Homo sapiens: one gene and its partner. The protein of the gene in region 2 purifies or fractionates together with the protein of the main gene of each other region. This does not show direct contact. Each region holds a gene or a part of one and is shown on either strand. Other genes may lie near its edges. The genes, in order: CEP152 and CROCC.

What was found.
Region 1: the proteins of CROCC (region 2) and CEP152 purify together in Homo sapiens (co-immunoprecipitation; 2 studies listed by IntAct). This does not show direct contact.

What each region holds. Positions count from the first base shown.
Region 1 is NC_000015.10:48,762,276-48,778,004, forward strand, and holds part of CEP152 (centrosomal protein of 152 kDa), read right to left. Parts: intron 10,417-15,729; coding exon 10,212-10,416; intron 9,015-10,211; exon of another isoform or gene 8,945-9,014; intron 7,898-8,944; exon of another isoform or gene 7,010-7,897; intron 6,807-7,009; coding exon 6,681-6,806; intron 6,054-6,680; coding exon 5,944-6,053; intron 5,189-5,943; coding exon 5,060-5,188; intron 4,918-5,059; coding exon 4,785-4,917; intron 2,121-4,784; coding exon of another isoform or gene 1,896-2,120; exon of another isoform or gene 1,610-1,895; intron 398-1,609; coding exon 116-397; intron 1-115. UniProt on the Homo sapiens protein: Necessary for centrosome duplication; the function also seems to involve CEP63, CDK5RAP2 and WDR62 through a stepwise assembled complex at the centrosome that recruits CDK2 required for centriole duplication.
Region 2 is NC_000001.11:16,944,926-16,954,365, reverse strand, and holds part of CROCC (rootletin), read right to left. Parts: intron 8,905-9,440; coding exon 8,760-8,904; intron 8,108-8,759; coding exon 7,961-8,107; intron 7,606-7,960; coding exon 7,375-7,605; intron 6,036-7,374; coding exon 5,842-6,035; intron 5,568-5,841; coding exon 5,440-5,567; intron 3,414-5,439; coding exon 3,244-3,413; intron 1,065-3,243; coding exon 885-1,064; intron 144-884; coding exon 9-143; intron 1-8. UniProt on the Homo sapiens protein: Major structural component of the ciliary rootlet, a cytoskeletal-like structure in ciliated cells which originates from the basal body at the proximal end of a cilium and extends proximally toward the cell nucleus.

The DNA of each region.
Region 1 (15,729 bases), on a different chromosome or scaffold from region 2:
TGCACAAAATCTTAAAAGTATAAAGTTATGAACGAGTTCAATGATAGCATTGTATGGGTTTTCATTAAGAGACAGGCAGTTCCAATAAATTTACTAGAATAAATCTGCCTTTTACCTGTTTGGTAATATTTTCACAATGTTTGAGTTCCAATTCAATTTCGAGTTTCTTCATAGCCCCCTTGATGGCTATGTCCTTCTCTTGTTCTAAGTTTTGCTGGATTGTGCACTTCTGCTCTTCTATCATAATTGCCATCTCTTTCTTGGAAATAACATCACTGGTGGTTACTTGGTCAGTTTGGCTGCCACAATCTAAGGTCTTCTTTTTCATTGCCTTTATAGTTTGATCCAGCTTAGACTGCCACTCCTTTTCAAGCTGTTGAATGAGTTTTTCTTTGATCTGTTTTCAGAAGAAAAATCATACGAGAAGAACAATTTTCAAATAAGTAAAAACTAGAATTAAAAGCTAGCCAGAAAAGCAACCACAGCTGTGTTTGAAAACCATCTAGATATTGTTGTAGTAATTATAAAAGGTTTAGAAATTTAGTCAATTAAAATACACTCTCAAGTAAAACTTGAAAGTTACTCTTTGAACTTAACTATATGACAAAAATCACATGAAAGATTTAAGTATGTTGTGTAAAGTCAGGATATCTTGCTCTTAATATCCAACCTTCTGGAATCTTTCCTATTGCCACTACAAAGATGGCAGGATTTAAAAAAAAAAAAATTACAGTTAATGTGTTTTGCCATCAACACCATGCTCTCCACAAAGGACCGAGTAAATCTAATTAACGAACCAAAACCTGAACAATCTAAAAAATAGTTTTACTCACTTGAACACATTAGAATCTTATTTGTTATAGTGTTAAATTTTACTAAGTAGACTACATTCAAAAGGGAGGCAGTATTATTGGAAGAACATCTTAATGATTTTTCCACTTTAACAGTACAGTGAGGTGGAGCTAAACACAGTCTTAGGCAAAACTATGAAACTGCACAATTTGGTTTTCCCTTTTTCTGTTCACCACCTGGGTATCTGAAGTTCTCCTACTGTTTCCCTGGCTACCAGATCAATAGCAATTAATAGCCATTTTGTAGATAAAAGAATCTAGTTGAGGCCAGGTGCAGTGGCTCATGCCTGTAATCCCAGCACTTTGGGAGGCTGAGGCAGGCGGATCACCTGAGGTCAGGAGTTCAAGACCAGCCTGGCCAACATGGCGAAACCCCATCTCTACTAAAAATATAAAAATTAGCTGGGTGTGGTGGCGCTTGCCTGTAATCCCAGCTACTCAGGAGGCTGAGGCAGGAGAATCACTTGAACTCGGGAGGTGGAGGTTGCAGTGAGCCGAGATCACACCACTGCACTCCAGCCTGGAGACAGAGCGAGGCTCCGTCTCAAAAAAGGAAAAAAAAAATTTAGTTTAAATAAGCTTGAGAATTCTTTTTTGTTTTCATTTCTAAATAAGCTTTTAGGATCATACTTTGTTCCCTAACTTGCTAGGGAACTATTAGCATTTCCTAATCTCATTTGCTATTTAAGTAATAGAGGTAACAAATTATGGGCTTCTGAGACTGCCCATTACTTCTTTGTTTCTAATCCATGATATGGCTTATTTGTTAGTTATAAATATTAGTCTAGAGTTATAATCATTCCACAATATGAAATCAGATCATGGTTTCATTTTGAGGAATCAAAGAAGTGCCCAAAAAACTTGTTATATCCTGAGTTGGGTCGAAAAGTCAAGAGGTGGCTAAATTCCTAAAAATAAAACTGGTGTGGTAACTGCTAATAGCTCAATTCCAAAAGGTAAAATGGATGATTATGTAAGTGCCTGGCAAATAAAAATTACGTATCTGGTTCAAGAAGAATTGTCTTCTAAAGTTAGTACCACATTTTAAAAATGTGGTGACCAGAAAGAAATTTTAATCCACACCTCTTGCTCTTCCTTATCCCAATGTGCTTTGGCTAAGATCACTTCACTTTCAACTTGCTGTTTAATATCAGTTTCTTGATCTTTCAGCCACTTGCTCTTTTCCATCATAAGTGTATCTTGGTACTTTTTTTCAAGTTCCACCTGCAGTTTGCTTACATATTCTTCTCTTTCCTCCAATAGCTGTCTCTTTAAACAAAATTCAAATAAACATCTCTCTACAACACTAACAGTCTCCAAGTTAAAACATGAACTTGTTGTGCGTGTCTTGGATAGCAAAAAAAATCCCTCTAACTTCTAAAATGCACCTACCTAACTCATATTACAATTGTATAAATAAGCCTTAATGTGCATAGAAATGGCATCAGGAATGGGAATGTTGACCATCTTTGCCTTGTCTGCAAATTCATAGGCTTCACTGATTACTACCCAACCTGAAGGATTCCGTGTATATGATTTTTTCCCCCTTTCTCTCAATGAGCCAGGTTAACATGTGAGGAAAGTTCTGTGTGCTACTAAAAGCTTTAAAACTTGGAATTGAGCTCCTATTTAACCTGCAACCTGACTCAGCAAGTGTTTCAGAAAACAATGCATGAAACATAAAAAAACACCCTTTAACTCTTATTGTTACCTGACTCATATATTCTGTATCCAGGTTAAATTCCCTACCTAAAGCTAAGCTGCAGTAAAATGGCTTATGTCCTGCATGGAAGAGCTACCCCAGAAGTGCCCTCACTTGTTCTAGAGTTTAGTAACATTCTCCCATGTATGTGAAACATTTCCTTTAAAAAAAAAAAAAAGGTGTATTTTTGCCTACCTCTGAAAAATGTGAGAAGATTAGACAGTCTCCTAAATATAAAGATGTTTCAGTTCTGACTGGCTTATACTACTAAGGGCTTATATAATTCTATAGTAAAAAACTAATGAATTCCCAGAGAGGGAAGAAATTAAACTTCTAATGCTTTAAGTACACTGGCCCTTTAAGTGAGGGGTGGGTTTGGAGGAGGAGTGTAACCACAAAAAGATAGCAAAAGGGAGCGTTTTAGGGTGATAAAACTGTTCTGTATCCTGACAAAACTATAAACGTGTTAAAGGTTTATAGAACTATACGCCCAGTGGTGGGAGGAAGTCAATTTTACTGTATAACAATTAAAATTTTTTTTTAATTATACTTTAAGTTTTGGGATACACGTGAAAAATTTAACCTCTAAGTTTGGTTTTTTTTTGAAGGATCAAATAGCAGTTTAACTTTTCTTCTTGGACTTGTGTACAAACACTCATGAGCCAAAATATCAGTCAATAGCAGATACTAATTGTAACTGACCCATTATATGAGATCATATTTTATAGTCAAATTGATTCTATTAAAAGTATCAGAAAATATTCCTGGAATGACCTCTTTGAGAAAATTCCTCTTATGTTCTTGCCAATTTTTTTTTTTTTTTTTTTTTTTTTTTTTTTTTGAGAGACGGAGTTTCGCTCTGTCGCCCAGGCTGGAGTGCAGTGGCGCAATCTCGACTCACTGCAAGCTCCGCCTCCCGGGTTCACGCCATTCTCCTGCCTCAGCCTCCCGTGTAGCTGGGACTACAGGCGCGCACAACCATGCCCGGCTAATTTTTGTATTTTTAGTAGAGACGGGGTTTCACCGTGTTAGCCAGGATGGTCTCGATCTCCTGACCTCGTGATCCGCCCGTCTCGGCCTCCCAAAGTGCTGGGATTACAGGCGTGAGCCACTGTGCCCGGCCGCCAATTTTTATACATATAAAAGAATCACACTAGTGATTTCCCTATTTTAATTTTTAAAACATTACTGAAAGCTAAGTCCTCAATTTCAAGGTAATATAAGATCCTTTCTCACTTTTATACTGCCATCCCTACCTAAAACAGCTCCCTTTAGAAGTTCTTTTTCCACTAGATGATATGTATACATGGCACATTTTTCACCATATTAATCTATTCAACAATAATCAAGATATTGAATGAACTGAATTCCTCGCCTGCTCTTTACTATTCTTTTTAAGTGTGTGGTAGTAATAGCTTGCTTTAACATAACTTATTCAAAAACCTCTGTATAGAACATTTATTTAAGCATTTAAAAATATTTTCTAATCTTGAGGCAGATAGCTTTCAAACTGTGGTTTGCCGCTGGTCCAAAGTGTGAAGGACAGTCAGGCCTGTTAAGGCACTGGGCCAGGACAGGGAAGAAAAGAGGAGGTGTGACTGTTTACATGTGATTTTACTCCTGGACACTCACCAAGAGTGACTCAGAAGAATCAGGCAGAGTTGGAGAATCTACTCTAGCCCCTCCAGCTTCCCTGAAGGAGGTCATACGAAGATGCTGACCTTGCTGTCCATATCCTCCATATCATCACTTTCCCTATCACGAGACCAACATTCAAATTCCTACTCTTCTCCCCAGAAGAATAAAATGACAATGAGGTAGTGAGAAAGAAATGGATCCGAGAAAAAGGGCTCTGAACGAATGCTCCGTGCAGCGCTCACAGGACTACATAGGGTTTCCTGAACAGTCAACACCGAAAATGAGGATCTGTGATTTTCAGATTTAAAGTGACACTGATCCTTTTTTTTTTTTTGCCCTTTAGAATAAATCTGCAAGAAAAAAAAAATCACTTTCTCCTATCTATATGCCATTGTACATTAAGGTTTTAATAATCATTTCAGTAATTACTGTATTTTATTTGTGAGCTATATGAGTGTGATACAGCCAAAAGTAAAGAGAACATATGAATACCTTCTCCATTCACTTCTCTAGAACAAATGTATTCGTTTAAATGATAATACTGAGGCTTGAAGAGTGAAAGGATGTCGATACAACATAAACTTGTACTGTACCTTCTCCTGAGTCTGTTGCTCCTTTTCAGTGGTCTTCCTGAGAGTCAATTCTAGATTATCCTTCTCTCTGCACACTTCTAGGTAACATTCCTGCACAGCAGTCACCTCCTTATTCAACTTATCCAACTCAGACCTTGGATACACAAAACCAGCAACTAAATGATTTAACCACAAAAAAATACAAGAGCTGCATAACAAACAATTTTCCTCTAAATTATGGAATAGGGGAATGTAGTCTCTACAGCTTAAAAGGCAGCTAAACTCTTTATTCTCACCTCAGTTGCAAATGAGTTCTCTCATAAGCCTCAAAGAGCTGCTGCTTCTCCAAAGCATGCTTTGCTAATAGGCTTTCACGTATTTGAGTTTTCATGGCTTCATGGTGCTGCTGATAAGTCCTTTCACACCTGGAAACAGAGCGGAATCAAAGGCAATGCCCAGTCTCACTACGAACACCAAAATGAATTGGTTTCCTTCCTTCCTCCTCACCTCTTCCCTCTAATGCAAATTATAATTGAGGTCAGATAACTTTTCCCCAACTGAAAGTGGTAATAATTAATTAATAACCAACAATCTTATGAGAATCTTCAAAATTTTCTTTCTTCAAATGTTTCTAGAGAACAATTAGAAACTTGGATGTGAGACTGCCCCAGTCCTTCAAATAGAGATAGTAATCTATGTTGAGGACTTCTGTTTATAAAAAATTAATGGCAATAATTGAGGGTGTGGCTCCAAAATTTCAAGTCATCTATATTAAACACAAATACTAGCAGTCCCCAACTCACAAGTAAGTTATGTTCCAGAAGTCTGTTTCCAAGTTTATGATTTGGTATTTGGAAGACATATTCCCTCTCACAGACTTTTTTCTTTATAAAGAATAGTTTCCCAGACGAGTCTTTAAAAAAATATTAACCTATAATATTTCAGTGAACTACAGTTTCAATGATACTATAGAACCCAACCCACTACATAACACTGTTTCTATGGAAAATGTGTTCCAAATTCTAATTTGAGAAGCCAGGGACTCATCTCTGCCAATCCAAGATCTCAACAGGGTAGAAATCACTCAATCATTTTGAATCTTTTTGTCACAGGGAAGGGCAGGGACTTAGAGGGGAAGGGTACCCAGGAGACAGTCGTCAGGCATCTATATAGACCTTACCTATCCACAGCTTCTTGTTTGTCATGGTCAAAATCTTGTACCATTTGTCTCATTTGATTACATAAGTCTTGATTTGTATTTCTCAGTTTTCCTTCAGTTTCTTTAAGTTCCTAGACACAAAAGAATAAACTTAGTACTTACAGAAAATAAACATCATTTTCACTGATTGATTTTGTCTTATTTTTTAATATTTTCTATGCTTTCTCTCTCCCCTATAACAATATTTGACATATTATTTTTACAATTCTGCAAAAGAAAAAGTCTCTTCACGCTTTGATAAGAACATAGATTCATTTATTTGACAAGTAGTTTTCTGACAGGACTAAACGTTTAAATTTTGTATTTACTTTGAAATATATAAAATGAAAATATTTAACCAGAGAAGTATTGGCTAGCTGATGCCTTAAAATAAGTCTCAGAATTCAATAATCTTCAGCAACCATCTAAATAAGCAAAGTTTTACTTCTGGGTCAAGAGCTGGCTAAGGAGGAAAGAATACCTCTGTCAGCCATGCTACCATAGAGAAAGAGAACTGGAACTACACTAACTTACCTTCCAATGAAACTACTAACCAACAGTTCACTAGCAAAGGGAAGTAACTGGAACTCATAATCACCTGCTAATATACTTGTCTACTAACTCACATTGCCTCTTTATTTGCAAAAACTCTATTATATCCTTTGTATTTAATGAGGAAATAAAAATTCTCATAAAATATAAAAAATATTTTTAATCACCTGATTTTGTTGTTGTAAAACTTGAATTTCATTTTTAAGCAGCAGAATATCATCTCTGACAACATCAGAAGTAGAAGACTCAGGCCATAATTGATTCTTTGGTTTTTCTGAGGTATCTGTTTTAGTCTGAATATTAAAAGGTCAAAAGTTTTACAAGTTTTAAAAAATTCTAAGTTTCACTTTGAAATACTTCCATACTTTAAAAAAATTGCAAACAGTACAAATAATCTCCATATAGCTTTTACTCATCTTCCCCCAATATAACTACAGCACAATCATCAAAACTAGTAAATTAACACAGATGCAATACTATCAAGTAATCTACAGACCTTATACAAATGTCTCCAATTTGCCCCAAATGTCTGTTTTCTGGTCCAAGATCAAATCCATGATTCTGAGTGGCATTTAGTTGTCATGTTTCATTAGTCTCCTCCAATCTAGGACAGCTCTTCAGTCTTTCAAACCCATGATGTTTTCTAAGAATACTAACCCGTTATTTTGTGGGATGTTCCTCAATTTGGAGTTTTTAGGTTTATTAAAATCAGGTTATGCATCTTTGGCATGCATGTCAAGAACTGATATGTGCTCTTTGCAGGAGACACATGATATCACTATGTCTCACCACTGGTAATAATCAATTGAAGGTGGGATCTGTCATCTCCATTGTAAACTTACTATTTTTTGTTTTATAATAAATGATAAGTATCTTATAGGATACTTTGAGACAATACAAATATCCTATTTCTCATCATATGTTCTCCTACTAAGATCAAGCATTTATTCTATTTCTGTATGTATTCATTTATGTCAGCATTCACTCACGGACATATATTTTATTCAATACATACAATTTTTAAGACTCATGATAGACTTTGGCGAATTGCCTTCCAGAAATGTCATCCAAATGTATACTGTCAGGTAGTACATGGGTCTGCCCATCTCTCTTTGCCTCCAATGGCAGTGATTATCTTTAAATAATTATCTTTGATGGGAAAAGAATATCTAACAATTGCTTTCATTTGTATTTCTTGTGTCACCACCAAAGTGGAACCTCTTATATACCTTCATTGTTCATTTGTTTTTCCACCTTCCCAGATTTATCTGTTCATTTAACTTTGCATATTTTCCTCTGAGAGTTTTCCTTATCTACTTTTCTTTTTATTCATTGATGGGGGTTACAAAGATTTTAAAAATATATCTACTCCGTTTCACTTGTTGTGTACCTGGACTCTGAGCTCTTTGCCACAACACAGTGGCTCATCCTTGTAATCCGAGCACTTTGGGAGGTGGAGGTGGGCAGATCACTTGAGTCCACAGCTGAAGTAACTTTGAGAAAAATTGGAGTTTAGATGTACACTACCGAGAATTCACTATGGCAATAGAGTAGCTGGACAAAAAGAATACTCAAAGATGAGATAGTTATTCCTTTGATCTATTGATCAACCAGACTACAGAGGAAAATGGGAAGGCTAAAAAACAGTACAATGCATGACCACTATCTACTGCTACACATGATAAAGTGTATCTGTATAGCAAATGCCATTAGCAAGTTTAATACAGAACAAAGAAAGCACCAAGATATCTGAGCTAAGGTTCAGACTCAAAATCAGGTTTCTAGTATCCTAAATCCTAGAGCACTCCCACCAAAATGCTTAAACTAATAAACTCTAATGTCTTAATGCAAATTGAGAAACAAGCTTTCATTCCCATCCTTTTAAAGAAATGTAGGGCAACAATGAAAACAGCTTGATTTAAAGATGTTAAATGTGCAGGGGGCAGGGCGGGGAGGAGTCTCTCTCATTTGCTGTTAATATTAAAATCTATGTTTTAGTCATCAAATGTAGTTACTCAGAAGAGGGAATCAGGCTGGAAAAGATTTTGATAGCAAAAACACTGTTTTTCCAAAATATAAAAATTAACCACAATCAAAATTCCACAATAATTAGCACAGAATATTATACATACTTTAGCAGAACTGTTCTAATGAACACAACTCCTAGTTTAAATAGGAGATAAAACAGTACTAAAGAAGGAAGTAAACAATTATCTCCACCCAGGAGGAAAAGGAGTATACTACCCACATTCCTTTTCCCTCTTCTTTTGCTTTTCTTAGTTATTAGGTGTTTTATATATTATTTTCTATTGGGAGTATAGATGGCTGATGATTTGTGAAATATGGAAGGGTAAAAAAAAGGATCTATAAAGGAGAGCAGCCCTAAAGATCTCTGTGATAGCATGATCTTACAGAAATATCTTTGACTTACTTATTAGTCATGTGTTTAGTTTCAATTTGTCTGAAATTGGCTCTGTAAATTCAAAAGTGTCACAAAGTGCTCCAGCTTCATTTTCCGAACTGAAGAATACAGAGGTGGATTTCAATGACTGACAAAACCAGATTTTGTGTACTTTCCCATAGTACCACGACCACTATATAATATCTGTACCATCATCACTATATAATTAATGTCCTCATATAGAATGACTTTTGTTGTAAGAACATGGGCCAGGAAAATCTCATAGAAAATACTACAGGATTTCTATGGAGGATTTATTTTAACTAGATTTTAGAGCACTATTGGTAAAAGCCAATCTTAAAGAAATGCAGATTCCTTGTTACAGAGAATACTTCCTTGTATTTATGGTAAAGGAATTTTACCTAATTGGTATCTCATTTACTAGGTGCCAAGAGTAACCAGAAAAAACATACAGATGCTTTTCAACTTACAATGGGTTTATCACCTAATAAAATCATTATAAGTTGAAAATATCATTAAGTCAAAAATGCATTTAATGCATCTAACCTATTAAAACCATAGCTTAGCCTGGCCTACCTTAAATGTGCTCAGAACACTTATAATAGCCAACAGTTATGCAAAGTCATCTAATGCAAAGCTTCATTTATAATAAACTGTTGAATATCTCATGAAATTTATTGAACACTGTACTGAAAGTAAAAAACAGAACTGTTTTACAGGTACTTGAAATATGGTTTCTACTGAATGCACATAACTTTTCCACCACTGTAAAGTCTAAAAATTGTAAGTCAAACCATCCTAAGTCAGGGACTGTCAGTATCCCTTTAAAAATGGCATTTCCTTCTTTAAACTTTATTTCTAAAAATGTCAAATAAACTCCTGAAAGCCAAAGGTTTATTAATTTAAAAACATGTAAAAGGGCTGGATGTGGTTAGTCACACCTGTAATCCAACACCTTGAGAGATTGAGGTGGGAGGATTGCTTGAGCCCAGGAGTTTGAGACCAGCCTGGGCAACATTGTGGGAACCTGTCTCTACAAAAAATTTAAAAATTAGCCAGGCATAGTGGCGTGCGCCTGTGGTCCCAGCTACTCAGGAGGCTGAGGTGGGAGCATCGCTTTAGCCTGGGAGGTTGAGGCTACAGGGAGCCATGTTTCCACCACTGCCCTCCAGCCTGGAAGACAGAGTGACGCCCTGTCTCAAAAAAAAAAAAGTGTAAAAGTTTTCTTTATTGAGCCTTTTAAAAATGGTTTTTTAACTCTATAGGCTTTACATACCTCAACCTCAATGCTTTTTTCATCCTTCTTCACTTGGTGGAGATCTTCAATTTTCTTATGACAGTCTTTGAGGTCATTTTGTAACTGAGACACCAGATGACGCTTCATTGAGTTGCTACCCAGCAAACGCTGTACTTCTGCCTTTAACTTCAGAATGAACTCATCTTTTGAAAGCTCTTCATTTGGGTCTTCTTCTTGTACAATGCTAATGGAGAAATTGTGATTTTTAACATTAAATCAAGTAATAAATCAGACATGGTTATTCCCTAAAAGCACTGACCACAGTGGTGAACATGTTTTGTCACCTATACAATTATATACTAGTATTTCAAAACAATTTTAAATGTTGTCATACACAAGGATTATCACCTTTGCCATGTCTCTATATACAGAAATACGTTTATTCACAGGAAGAGCCTTCTCAAGCTTAGTCCTGCTGCTCACTGTAAGTAGCTTAGAAATGTGAACTTTGACATAATTTACATTTGTGTTATTGGAAAACTGCATGCTGTATATACATGCCCTTTATGACTCTAACAGAAACAACATAAATATTAAGGAAGAAAAGAATACTAAACACTAGCCATCCTAACCAACAATTTCTGTTATTTTTTTCAACTTACTAAAACACAAGTCTGGGTGAATATCTGAGTAACTAGAAAAACACAAAAATAAAACCATGCTAATTTAAACCCAATTTTAGTTTCAATAAATTTAAAGATTGAGAGATTATCTGCTTCCTTGCCGTAATGAATTAACAAGACTAACCTTTATCTTCCTCCTTAAAAAACTAGCAAACCAAATAAAGCAAATAAAATAATAGTTTTCAATCACTAGACAACAGGCAGCACAGGCCAGGGATTCCTGAGAAAAGGAAAGCAAACAAGGTGAGCTCTAAGATTACCCCAGCTTTCTGCCTGGAGAGTGTCCAGGCCATAGCACAGGGAGGTGAAACCCAAACAGAGCCCAGTAATCTCACTGAGTTTCAGAGAAAGAATTCAGAATTTGGGGAGTCCAGAGTGGCTAGAATATGAAGGGAAGAAATACTGGGGAAAAAGAAGCTGCACAGAAAAAGAGCTCTGGAGATCTGTTCTGTATGAGTGGCTAGGGAAAAAAACATAGGAAATGAATAAGGCTGGGAATATGTTATGTTTCAATGAGCCATAATGCAAAGACTTCCTAATTTAAAGGGCATCAAATAATACCTTAGTAGTGGGGCAAAATTAGCCCCAGATTAAAGCCTTTTCTAAACCTGATGTAGTAAAGCCTATAAAGAAAGCCTTGAAAGGATCAAACTGATTCCAAGTAACTTGTGTGTCACAGAAAAAGTACAACAGTATTTTTAAAAATACAGTAATATCTGGCATCCAAAACAAAATTCAAAATGTCTAGCATTCAATCAAAATTTATCAGGCATAGAAAGAAGTAGGAAAAAAATATGAACCATACCAGGAGAAAAACCAATCAATAGAAACTAACCCATCAATGACACAGACAATAGAATTAATATATTTCATATGTTCTAGAAGGTTAAGGAAGATATGAATATGTGGAGGAAAATGGAAGATACAGAAAAGACTCAAATTAAACTTATAGAAAAAATTATAATATCTGAAATGTAAAATATACTGGATGGGGTTAATAGCATATTTAAAACTGCAGAAGAAAAGATCAGTGAACACATAGATATAGAAATAAAACTATATAATTAAAAACAAAGATAAAAAAGACTAAAACAGAAATACACAGAACATATTACATTTTCCAACATGTGTAACTGAACTCCCAGAAGAGGAGAGGGATGGAAAACATATTTGAAAAAATAATGGCCAAATTTTTCCTAATTTGATGAAAATGAAAACCCCACAAAACCCAGAAGTTTGGTGAATCTCAAGCAGAATAAACACAAAGAAAACCAGCATACATCACACCAATGTCAGATTGCTGAAACCCAGTGATAAAAAGAGAGTGTAGGAAGACTCCCGGAGAGAAAAGAACCAGAGAAAGGAATCCTGAATTCTGTGTATAAATTTGTACAAGCCTCAGTCTAAGCCCTGAACTATGCATGTACAGGGCAACCCTCAAACCAGCATATCAAAGATTTTAAAAACTTAACTGAAATTTAAACCACACATTCAAGTCTCACAATGACTAAACCCGAAGGGATGCATACACAGGTTGGATTCAAAGCAATGTGGCAAAGGCTTGGAGAACCAAACAGATTTAAAACACTCATACAAATTCACAATGTCTAGTATATAATCTAAAATTACTTGACATGCAACTAACCAGAAAAATGTGGCCAAATCTTAAAAGACAATCAACAAATGATCCAAATGCTGGAACTGTCACTAAAAGAGTTTTATAAGTTTAAAGTAGCTATTATATCTCTGCTTTATGAAGTAAAGAAAAAGATACTTGAAGTGAATGAAAAAAAACAGGAATTCTTAACAGAGAAAGAAAAGTGATACAAGAACAAAATAGAAATGTTATTAAGTAAACAAAAGTTAAAATAAAAACACACAAAACCTTCACTAGATAGGCTCAATAGAGTATAGAGGACAAGAAAAAAAGGAGTGAACTTGAAAATAGTCCAGTAGCAATTATGCAAAATAAAAAGGGAAAAACTATAGAAAAAAATGAACAGAGCCTCAAGAAACTGTAGTATAATATCAAAAAATCTAACATACATGTAACTGGAGACCCAAAAGGAGAGAACAAAGACACAGAGACAGAAAAGGTATTTAAGGAAATTAATGGCTGACATTTTCACAAATTTGGTAAAAGACATAATAAATTTATATATTCAAGAAGCTCAGAGAACCCAAAATGAGATAAACTAAAGAAAAACACACTTAAACATATCATAATCAAAGTACCAAAAACTAAATATAAAGAAAAAAATTCTTAAAGCAGCAAAAGAAAAACCTATACATTACTGACAGAAACACTAATTCAAATAACAATGAATTTCTTCACAGAAACCATTGAGTCCAGAGAGAGTGGACCAACATAGCTTTAATGTGCTGAAATAGAAGAACAATTGGTCAGGAATTGTATAATAAACAAATATAAGGATATTTTCATAAAAGGAAACAGACTCTGTCAGCAGCAGACATGCTTGAGAAGAAATGGTAAAGAAAATTCACAGAAGATCATATTATACGATTCTATTTATATGAAATGCACAGAGCTGTCAAATCCATAGAGACAGGAAGTAGATTAGTAGATTAGTTGTCTGGAGCTGTGGAGGCAGGAAGAGGTAATGGGAATGACTGGTAATAGGCATGGAGTTTCTTTGGGGGGATGTTGAAATGCTGTAAAATTAGGTGTGGTGATGACTGCACAGTTCTGTGAATATACGGAAAACCACTGAGCTGTATTCTTTAAGTGGGTGTCTTTTATGGTATGTGAAATAATATCTCAATAAAACAGTAAAAAAAAAAAGAAAAGAAAACCCAAACACCTAACGTATGAGTTTCCTTCATATGAAGGCAAATCTAATAATCTGTAGTGCTTAGGTGTGAATAACTGGGTATTAAAAAGCTAAGGGAAAAAAAAAACAGAAAATGATTGCCCTAATAGATAAGATAGTAGTTAGCCTCAAGGTTACAATAAGAAAGAATATGGGCAGCTCGTGGCAATATTTACTTCTTGACCTGGGTGGTGGTCCTACGAATATTCACTTTCAAATAATTCATTAAGCTATATATTTATGTTCCATGTTTTTTATATGGTATATTTCATAATTTGAAAGATTTAAAAAGCAAAATAAAACTATAGAAAGTACTAGAGAAATACCTTATTTTTAAATATCAAGAAACCATAAATGAAAACAGTGACAGATCTAACTATATAAAAATTATAAACAGGAAAAGTGATAACTCTCAATACTGGCTAGGTTACCAAGAAATAGGGACAGCCTCAGGACGTGGGTAATAATGTAAACTTTAGGGCTGTTTAGTAATATGCATCAAAGCCCTCAAATAAGTGCACACCCTCTAGCAAGACAATTATTCTACTTCTTTAGGAAGTAATCAAAGATGTGAATAAAGACTTGACTACAAGGATGCTTATAACAATGATATTGCATTATTTATAAGTAAAACTTTTAAACAGCGATTTAGTAGCTAAACTGGTTCATTCATCTACATAGTCACTAAAAGTAATCTATAAAAATATTCACTAATATTCAAAGATTTCAGAATATACTAGTAAAATGACATTATAAAGAAATATTATCAATATTATTTTATCTTTTAGAAACATACAAAACAGGTGATGTGGAAGTTTTATACTGAAATATAAAAGTGGTTTTCTTCATGGGAAGTAAGGTGAGATTATTGGTGACTTCTATTTTCTTCTTTTTTAGTCTGTATTTTCTAATTTTTTCATAATGGAGGATTAAGTTACTTTTGAAAAGAAATAAACAGTTGACAGTATCTGCCCTTAAGATGAGGTGATGAAAGTCTCTGTGGTCTTTCTCCACAAAACCCATGAGAAAAACGTAATCATAAGAAAAACGTCATATTCCAATAGACAAGCTTCCTACAAAATACTTGGCCAGTATTCCTTACGACTGTCAAGGTCATCAAAAACAAGTAAAGTCAAGAGAAATCTAAGGAAACATGACCCCTAAATGTAATGGGGTAGCCTGGTTGGGATCCCAGAACAGAAAAAGTATGTTAAATAAAAACCAAGGGCATGTAAATAAACCCTGGATGTTAATTAATAATAATATACCAATATTGGCTCATTAATTGTAACAAATGTACCATACTAACATAAGGTATTAGTAGGGAAAAATGGGTGCAGCATATCGTATATAGGAACTCTGCGTAATACAAATTTTTCTGTAAATTAAAAACTGTTCCAAAAATATATTTTTAAAAAACCTTTATTAGAAACAAAAATACTACCTGAGTTAAAATGTTTACTGTTCTTCAGTTTTAGATGATTCCAAATAAAATCTTAGAATATTGTGTGTGTGTGTGTGTGTGTGTGTGTGTGTCTGTGTGTATGGGTGTGCGAGACAGAGAAAATGAACAAACTATTAGGTAGGCTTTTTAATGTTATAAAAGGAGCTTTTGCAATACAAAATGCAAATTTGTATATGTAATATATATATATATTTTGTAAGTAGTCTGTCTATATACATAGATCTCATTTAAACCACTTCTATTTCCATTGAAGTAGAAAATATAAATTACAAGAAATATAAAATATTTTACAATATAACTTCCTGTGCCATAAGACATGGTGAACTAACCTTAAGCAGAATGATTATTTTGCTCGGTTAACAAATTATGCATCCCCAATTTCTTTTCTTACTGAATGCTGACCACTGAAATAGCACATCCTGTACTCCTAGAGGGAGCCAAGTCAGAGAGAGAAAGTGCTTGCTAAAATAATTTTCTCTTCTTTCCTCAAAGGGGAAAAAAATCAGTGGTAGTGACCAATCCTGAAAAAGGCTCACTACTGAGTCCCATGGAAGTCAGTTCTCCTAAATCCAAATAAA
Region 2 (9,440 bases):
TGCCCTACCCGGTCCTGCTCCTGCCGGCTCTGGGCATCTCGTTTCTGCCGCTCCATCTCCAGGGAGATGGTGGCCAGGCTGTGCCGTGTACCCATCAACTTCTCTGACAGCGCCGTCTTCTCAGACTCCTTCAGAGACAAGGCCTGGGCAGAGGCAGGGGACAAAGGGCTTGGGGGATGGGCTGGTCCTGGGGGCATGCTCAGGCTTCTTGCTGCCTAGGAAATGTGCCCACTGGGGGCTTAGAGGCCTGAGTGTGCCACTGCAGGTGGACCCAGGGCAGACATGCAGCCCTGGAAAAGGGCACAACGGCAGTCACAAGAATCCCGGACGTGGATACCACTCATAGAGCTCACTAACCCGCCACAGCACCCTGACTGCAGAGTCTTTCTTTCTACCCATCTTACAGATGAGGAAACTGAGGCTCAAGGAGGTAAAGTGACTCGCCCAGGTACACAGCTGGTGAGGAGAGGAGATGGGCACAGTCTGCCCTGTCTCCGTTACATTATAGGAAAGTTAGGGATTTGTTATTTGGGGGGACACGTCAGCTGATGCCTGTGGGCATCGTGGGGACTGCTCAGAAGGCAGCCATGAGGATCCATGCCCAGCGTGGGGTGGGACGAGGCATGGGAGAATATGGAACAGCTTTCCTGGTGTCACGACTGTCACTGTCACTCAGTAAGTGCTCACTGTGTGCCAGGCATGGAGCACAGCAAAGCCTCACGAACCCCCTTCTAATCCTCCCCTCCTGCAGGTAAGGAAACTGAGGCCCCCAAGAGGGCAGTGGCCTGCCCCAGGGCTCCTAGCTGCCAAGTGGCAGAGCAGGGCCCGGCCCCAGAACTGGAGCAGCTCAGAGAGCAGCAGAGGCCATGCCAGGGCTCACGAACCTGCTGCTTCTCACTCTCTGCTAGGAGGAGGCCCTCGTCGCGCTCCTGCTGCAGGGCAGCAATCTCCTCACTCAGCTCTTCCTTCTCAGCCTCCAGCCGGGCCAGCAGCTCCTCCTGCTCACGCTGCAGCTGACTCTGCAGCTGGGCCCGCTCGGCCTCCAGCTCCCGCCATGCTGCCTCCTAGGGGGCCAGGACCGGATGCCTGTGACACACCAGGAGGGGGCCCAGGCAGACCCCCCAAAACATCAGGGCAGCAAGAGCCATCTGGCCCCCATACCCTCAGAGATGGAGGGTGACCAGGTAAATACAAGGGAGTGATAAGGGCTATGACGGGGACACGCCAGGGCCGTGAAAGTGCCAAGGAGCAGCAGTGGGCTGGCCTGGGGGTCCGAACATGGTCCCCTGCGGAGGGACAAGTAACTGTCAGCCAGGTAAGGAGAGAAAAGACCACCCCAGGCCAAGAACACAGCCCCTGGAAAGGCCTAGAGGATGCAGGGTGCAGAGGGGAACGGGACATGGTGAGTCACAGGGCCAGAGCCCCAGGCAGGGGTGGGGCCAGGACAGGCCGTGTGGGCCATGGGGATTCTAAGGACAGTGAGGGGAGTGGGAGAGAGGACTCGAGCCAAGGTGACAAGGAGCAATCTGATTTTTAGCTTAGGGGATGTTCCGACAGCTGTGGAAGAGGGATTGGGGTTGGGATGGAGGGGAGTTAGGACTGGCTGTGAGGAATGAAGGGGGTCAGGGGTTGCCAGAGGAGCTGGAGAGAACACAGATTTGGGGACATTAATGAGGCCAAGCCAGGCAATGCAAAGGGCAAGAAGAGCAAGGGGGAGGTCACAGGAGTTCAGATCCCTGGGGACTGGACAGGCGGGCAGGCAGAGCCCACAGGCAAATAGCAGCCCACCTGGGGAGCCTGAGGGCAGGTGCCTGCCTCAGCACTTGCCCCTAGCAACTCTGTGAGAAGCAGACAGAGCTGCCACTTCTTTTTTTTTTTTTTTAGACGGAGTCTTGCTCTGTCACCCAGGCTGGAGTGCAGTGGCGAGATTTTGGCTCACTGCAACCTCTGCCTCCCAGGTTGAAGCGATTCTTCTGCCTTACCCTCCCAAGTATCTGGGACTACAGGCGCGTGCCACCACGCCCAGCTAATTTTTTGTGATTTTTAGTAGAGATGGGGTTTCACTGTGTTAGCCAGGATGGTCTCGATCTTCCGACCTGGTGATCTGCCCACCTCGGCCTCCCAAAGTGCTGGATTACAGGCATGAGTCAGCACGACCGGCCAAACCGCCCCTTCTTTAAGATCTTCACCGTAGCTCATGCCTGTAATCCCAGCACTTTGGGAGGCCGAGGTGGGCAGATTACGAGGTCAAAAGTTCGAGACACCCTGACCAATATGGTGAAATCCCGTCTCTACTAAAAATGCAAAAATTAGCCAGGCGTGGTGGCGCGCCTATAATCCCAGCTACTCAGGAAGCAGAGGCAGGAGAATCGCTTGAACCCAGAAAGTGGAGGTTGCAGTGAGCCGAGATTGCGCCACTGCAATCCAGCCTAAGCAACAGAGCAAGACTCCGTCTCAAAAAAAGAAAAAAGAAAAAAAAAAAAGAGCTTTACCGCCACCTCCTGGAGAAGCGTGGTAACAACCACCCAAGGCCAGGGGTACTGCAGGGTGAGTGGCATGCCCTGGAGCCATGCAGTCATAGCCTGCACCTCTGTCAGAGGCAGCCCTGTCTAGGATTTGGTGGCTGAGGGCCCCTGTCCCGAGGGCCACTCTGGAGAGCATGTCAGTGCCAGCAATCATAACTTATGGAGCATTTGCTAAGTACCAGTCACTATGCTAAGCCCTCTATGCAGATGGTCTCAGCTCATCTTCAATACCTTTCACTATCCTATCCCTATTTCTACAGGTGGGGAAATGAAGGCACGGACACCTTGGGTAGCATCACCAGTAAGCGACCAAGATTCGATTCAAACCCAGGCAATTCAAACCCAGAGTCAGTGTTCTAGTAACTTCCCTGGCCCCTTGCCTTTCTATATGCTGAGGTCTGAGTGGCTCTTCATATGCAAACAGTACTTCTTAGCAAATGAAAGTGCTTTCCTGCTGTACATTAGGTCAGTATTTCCCAAATGTGGTTGTGGACCCTCTGCATCAGGATTACCAGGGCTGGACCAGATTTGGGACCTGGGAATCTGCATGTCTAATAAGAACCACAACCTCCCCATCCCCCCAGTCCTCCTAGCTGTCCCCAGGACCTCCACAACAGAGAGGAAGTCCCATTTCACAGATGTAGAGACCGAGGCAGAGCAAGAACGATGATGAAACACTGGCTCAGAGTCCTGCCCACCCCTCCCCAGCTGCCTGAACCTTTTCACGCTGGAGTCGCTGTAAGTCCTCCTCGTGAGCTGCCCGCTGCTCCCGCAGAGAGGCCTGGGCCTCCCGCTCAGCCTGCACCAGCTTCTGGGCCATCAGCTCCTTGTCTAGACTGGCTTTCTCCTGTGTAGCTATTATTTGCTGCCGCAGGCCCGCCAACTCCCCTGCACGAGAGGAATGGGGGAAAGGGCAGGGTTGGGTTGAAACTTTTCCTTGGGCCAGCAGACTTAGGCCAGGTGAGCCACATGGGCAAAATCCCAGAGGCAGAGGGCCTGCCTGGCATCTAGTTTGGGTCCTCTTGAAGTGGCTTGCCCTCTCTGGGCCTCAGTTTCCCTATATGCTACATGGGCCCACTGGCCCTGACCCCTTTCCTGCCTACCTAGAATGGCATTAAAGGCATAAAATGACTGATGAGAAGGCCTCCCAAATGGGACGGATGTCAAACATATAACAACCCTAGGTCAGGTGCCTTGGCTCACGCCTGTAATCCCAGCACTTTGGGAAGCTGGGGCAGGTGGATCACCTTAGGTCAGGAGTTCAAGACCAACCTGGCCAACATGGTGAAACCCTGTCTCTACTAAAAATACAACAATTAGCCAGGCGTGGTGGCAGGCGTATGTAGTCCCAGCCTCAGGGAGGCTGAGGCAGGAGAATCGCTTGAACCCAAGAGGCAGAAGTTGCAGTGAGCTGAGATTGCACCACTGCACTCCAGCCTGGGCAACAAGAGTGAGACTCTGCCTCAAAAAAACAAATAGGCCGGGCGCAGTGGCTCATGCCTGTAATCCAGCACTCTGGGAGGCTGGGTCAGGTAGGTCACCTTAGGTCAGGAGTTTGAGACCAGCCTGGCCAACACAGCGAAACCCTGTCTATACCAAAAATACAAAAATTAGCCAGGCATGGTGGCGGGCATATGTAGTCCCAGCTACTTGGGAGGCTGAGGCAGGAGAATCGCTTGAATGCAGGAGGCAGAAGTTGCAGTGAGCCGAGATCGCACCATTGCACTCCAGCCTGGGCAACAAGAGTGAGACTCTGTCTCAAAAAACAAACAGGCTGGGCGTGATGGCTCATGCCTGTAATCCCAGCAGTTTGGGAGGCCAAAGCGGGTGGATCACCTGAGGTCAAGAGTTCGAGACCAGCTTGACCAACATGGCGAAACCCCGTCTCTACTAAAAATATAAAATTAGCCAGGCATGGTGATGCATGCCTGTAATCCCAGCTACTTGGGAGGCTGAGGCAGGAGAATCGCTTGAACCCAGAAGGCAGAGGTTGAGGTGAGCCGAGATAGTGCCATTGCACTCCCGCCTGGGCAACAAGAGTGAAACTCTGTCTCAAAACAAACAAACAAAAAACAACCCTATTCCTGACTGAGCACTTACTATGGGTCAAGCGCCCAGCTAAGTATTTTAGACATAACCTCATTTTGTCTTCATAACATGCCTATGTAGTTTATCCTCATCCCCATTTAACAGATGATGAAATGGAGGCTCAGAGATCAGCAGCAACTTCCCACAGCTGCACAGCTACACATAAAGCATCTCCTTTAATGACTGACATGAACATACCCGTCAAACGTTAACTATTTATATTAATGGAAATGACTACAGGGAATGGAAATGGTATAGCTACCATCTAAAAACCATCTCCCGGGTTGGAAACCCACCAGCATTTCCCTTCCTGGTTCTGTCTGGCTCAGGTGTACATGGACAGGAAAATTAATTTCCATGACCCAAGTAGGTGCTTAGTTAATGTTAGGTGAGCAGAAAGAAGCCCTGAGTTCAGAGACTGGATGGGAACGGTGCAGGGAAGTGGGGCTGGGATTCTGGGGCCAAGAGAGTCATCTGAAAAGCACAGAGAACTCAGACTAACAGGCCTGATGACCGATGAACGGCAGTTACTGTTGACTCAGCCAGGCACCGTGCCACGGCCTTACACGCTTTTCCCACGTCATCCTGGCAACAGGCTTAGAAGGTGGGCATTGCCACCTCCAATCATCAGCTGAGGAATCTGCAGCCCAGAGAGGAAAGGGGCTTGCTCAAGGGAAGGTGAGATCTAAGTGGTGGCACAGGACTGGAACCCAGGCCAGCCAGACTCCTACTCCAGTGCTCCCAACTTCTGTGAGACCCCAGACCTTGGGAGGCTGCAGTCTGGGCTGGAACCTGGTGTTCCCCCCAAGTCCCCAGCCCCTCGTACCAGTCAGGGTCTCCTTGGCCAGCAGCAGGGCCTGCCCCTCGGCTTCCAGCTGCTCCCGGCGGGCCTCAAGCTGGGCCAGCTGCCGTTGCACCTCAAACAGGCTGCCCTCCAGGGCTTCCTTCTCCAAGCTGCAGCACATACAGTCCCTGAGGCCCTGGGACTCAGCCTCCCTGGCCCCAGGAAACTGTGGATCTCAGGGAGTGGCCAGGCATGGGCCAAGTGCCAATCTACCTGCCTGGCCAGGCCCACACTCCCTGGGGAAGCCTGAGCCACAGCTAGGACGAGTCGGCAAGCCAGACTCCTTAGTAACTGCCCCTGGGGGCCCGTGCCTGCGTGTGGCTGGTCATGGTGTGGCCCCAGGAGGACCCCCCAGGGCGGGTTGGGCAGAGCCCAAGGCCTTACCGCAGGCGTGTGGCCTCCTCTGACAGGGTCCTGCCTTCACGCTCCGCAGCCACCAGCTGCACAGCCAGGCCAGCGTGCTCCTTGGCTAGCGCCTCCTTCTCACGGGCCGCTCGCTCCAGCGCCTCCACTTGCCGCTGGGCCTCCCGCCGGGCCTGCTCCAGCTCCTGCTCCCGCCCGCTCAGCTGCCGGGAGAGCTGGCCCCCACCCAGAGACTGAGTAGCACTCCCAGCGTCCCCCAGCTTGTTCATCGTGCAGCACCCCAACTCTGGGCCTAACCCAGTCCTGGCAGAAGGCCTGGGTTTGAGCCCAGGGTCTGCCCTGATGTGCTACATGTACTTGGGCAAGTCATGACCTTCTCTAGATCTGCAATGCACGTGTGTACAAAAACCAGGGCCCAGCCAGGTACGGTGGTGCGTGCCTATAATCCCAGCACTTTGGCAGGTGGATCACTTGAGGTCAGGAGTTCAAGACCAGCCTGGCCAACGGGGTGAAACCCTGTCTCTACTAAAAATACAAAAATTAGCCGGGCGTGGTGGTGCACGCCTGTAGTCCCTGCTACTTGGGACGCTGAGGCAGGCGAACAGCTTAAACCCTGGAGGCGGAGGTTGCAGTGAGCCCAGATCGTGCCACTGCATTCCAGCCTGGGCAACAGAGCAAGACTCTGTCTGGAAAAAAAAACAACAACAAAAACAAAACAAAATGAAACAAAAAAAATGAGGGCCCTCACTCAGCTCTGGGAGTAACAGAACCCTTGTATTACTCTAAACTTGCAGAGAAGCTGAATATATAAACCAGACCCAAGTGCAGCTGCTCGGCAGGCCTCAAGGTGGAGACCTGCACCCTGCTTCCTGCACCCCCTACCCCATCCTCTAGAGGCCCCTCCCAGAAACCTAGGCGCTCCAGGATAGACCTTGCATGAAGGTCCCTGGATCCCTGAAACATTAAGGTCTCTTCCAGATGTGATGTTCCCAAAAGTCTAAGATTCCAATTCTAAAAAGTCTCCACCTATTATTAATCTGTATCATTATTATTATTATTATTATTATTATTATTATTGAGACGGAGTCTTGCTCTGTTGCCCAGGCTGGAGTGCAGTGGCATGATCTTGGCTCACTGCAACCTCTGCCTCCTGGGTTCAAGCGATTCTCCTGCCTCAGCCTCCCAAGTAGCTGGGACTACAGGCGCGTGCCACCACGCCCAGCTAATTTTTTGTAGAGATAGGGTTTCACCGTGTTAGCCAGGATGGTCTTGATCTCCGGACCTCAGGTGATCCACCCGCCTCGGCCTCCCAAAGTGCTGGGATTATAGGCGTGAGCCACTGCGCCTGGCTGGCCCCATGTTATAGATGGGGCAACTGAGGTATGGGAGATTGGGCAGCTTGTCCAAGGTCCCCAGCTAGCAGAAGTGGGGCTGGATTTAACCCAGAAGCAGGCTCCAGTGCCTGTGACTTAACCCAGGACTGGATGCAGGGGGCTGGGAGCCCGGCCTGCCCCACATGCTCTCCACACCACCCCCACACACAGCTTTGCCCACCTGCGCTAGCTGCTCCTGCAGCTGGCTGCGCTCATGGCGCAGCGTGGGGAGCTGCTGCTCCAATGCCTCCTGGGCCTGCTCCGCCACTCGTAGGGAGCCCTCCAGGCCCTGCCGCGCCACCTCCTGCTCCAACCGCAGCTCCTCTAGCCGTTCCTGCTCTTCCCGCGCCACTGTGGCCTCCTGCTCTGCCTGCCGTTGCCGGCCCTGCAGGGCGGACTTTTCTTCCTCCAGCTGGAGGCCAGGTAGGAGTGGGGCCTCGTGAGCAGGGCGTCCCTCCCAGGACCAGGACGCCTCCTCCACCCACCCACCAGCAACAATAGCCCAGGGGAGGCTCCCAGGGAATGAGGGACAGTGCCCTTGGGTGTATGGGACACTGGGGAGGGGGAGATGAGGAGGGCCCATGGAACTTCTGTGCTTTGACGCCTAGAGGGGATAGACAGACAGACAGAGAACCAGAGACAGACAGAGAACCAGGGACAGAAAGGGAGGCAGGGGCCAAGACAGGTACAGGGCTGGGCCCGGGGTGCCTCACTGAGTGGGGAGGATGGGTGGGCAAGGCAGGTGGGCCCGCAGGTGCACAGCGTACCTGGGCGACAAGGCGGTTCAGATCCAACTTGTCCTGAGCAAGGCTCTCGTTGAGGGCGCTCAGCTTGGACAGGGAGTCCTGCAGGGAGGCCTCCTCTGCCCTCAGCTTGGTCATGGAGAGCTCGAGCTCCACGCGGCCAGCCTCAGCCTGCAGGGTCAGGCCCCGAGAAATGAGGAAAGGCAGAAAGGTCGGGAGGAGGTGAGGAGGCCCAAGAAGAGACCCAGAGAGATGGACCCTCAGAGACAGGGTAGGGGAGACAAGGAGGGGACACAGTGTGAGATGGAAAAAAAAAAATCACCGCAGAAAGCCTGCTGCTTATGAGCCATTTAAAAGCCACACACCACAGAGCTGTGCAAAAATAGCTCAAGCTGCAGGGCAGGGCCAGAGTTCAGAGGATCCCCTGAGTAGGGTCTAGGGATAGCACTGCTCAGAGCCCAGGCTGCAGCGGACAGCGCAGGCCCCCCTGCCAAGGACCCTCTGCGCTGTGGCCACAACTCTCAGACCCCAGGAGCTGAGTCTCAGGCACTGGATGACCCTGAGCTATAGGCATTGCCCCCAGGAGCATCCAGAAGAGCAGGGATACGGCCATAAAGAGAGGTCAGTCCACTTATGGCTGGGACCAGAGGTCCAGAGGTCTGTGGCCTGTGACAAAGATCAGCCTGTATCCAGAAGGAAGGGGTCAGTCTGTGACCAGGCTCAGAGGTCTGCCTGACACTGGGACCAGTCTGTGCCAGAGTGACAAGGCTTGGGGCTGGGGGTCAGAGGTAGGTTTGTGGTTGTGCAGCAGACAGGGACCCACCTTGGTCAGCGCCTCGGCCACCTCGGCCTTCTCGGCCTGCAGCATGTCCCGTTGCAGTGTGGCGCGGCTCAGCGCCTCCCTCACCTCCACCAGCTCCTTGGCCAGGACTGAGCGCTTCCCTTCCAGCTGCTCTAGTTGTCTATGGCTGTGGGACAAAGGGTGGGTGGGTGGCCCATGTCACTTTCCTGCCCCGAACCTCCTGTAGCCAGCGAGATGCTGGGCTGGGGACCAGGCCTGAGGCAGGAGTTTGGAGAGAAACAGCCTGAGCCACAGGGCAACCAAGCCCACTACCGCTTAGCTCCATGACCCTGGGCCTCCGTTTTCACATCTGCAAAATGAGGTAACACTTACCTCGTGACATTGTTTGTTTTTTTGAGACACAGTCTTGCTCTGTCACACAGGCTGGAGTACAGTGGTGCGATCCTGGCTGACTGCAACCTCTGCCTCCCAGGTTCAAGCAATTCTCCTGCCTCAGCCTCCCGAGTAGCTGGGATTACAGGTGCTCACCACCACGCCTGACTAATTTTTGTAGTTTTAGTAGAGACGGGATTTCTCCACGTTGGTCAGGCTGGTCTGGAACTCCTGACCTCAGGCGATCTGCCTGCCTTGGCCTCTCAAAGTGCTGGGATTACAGGCGTGAGCCACTGCGCCCGGCCTGTTTTAAGGATACAAACTTCACAT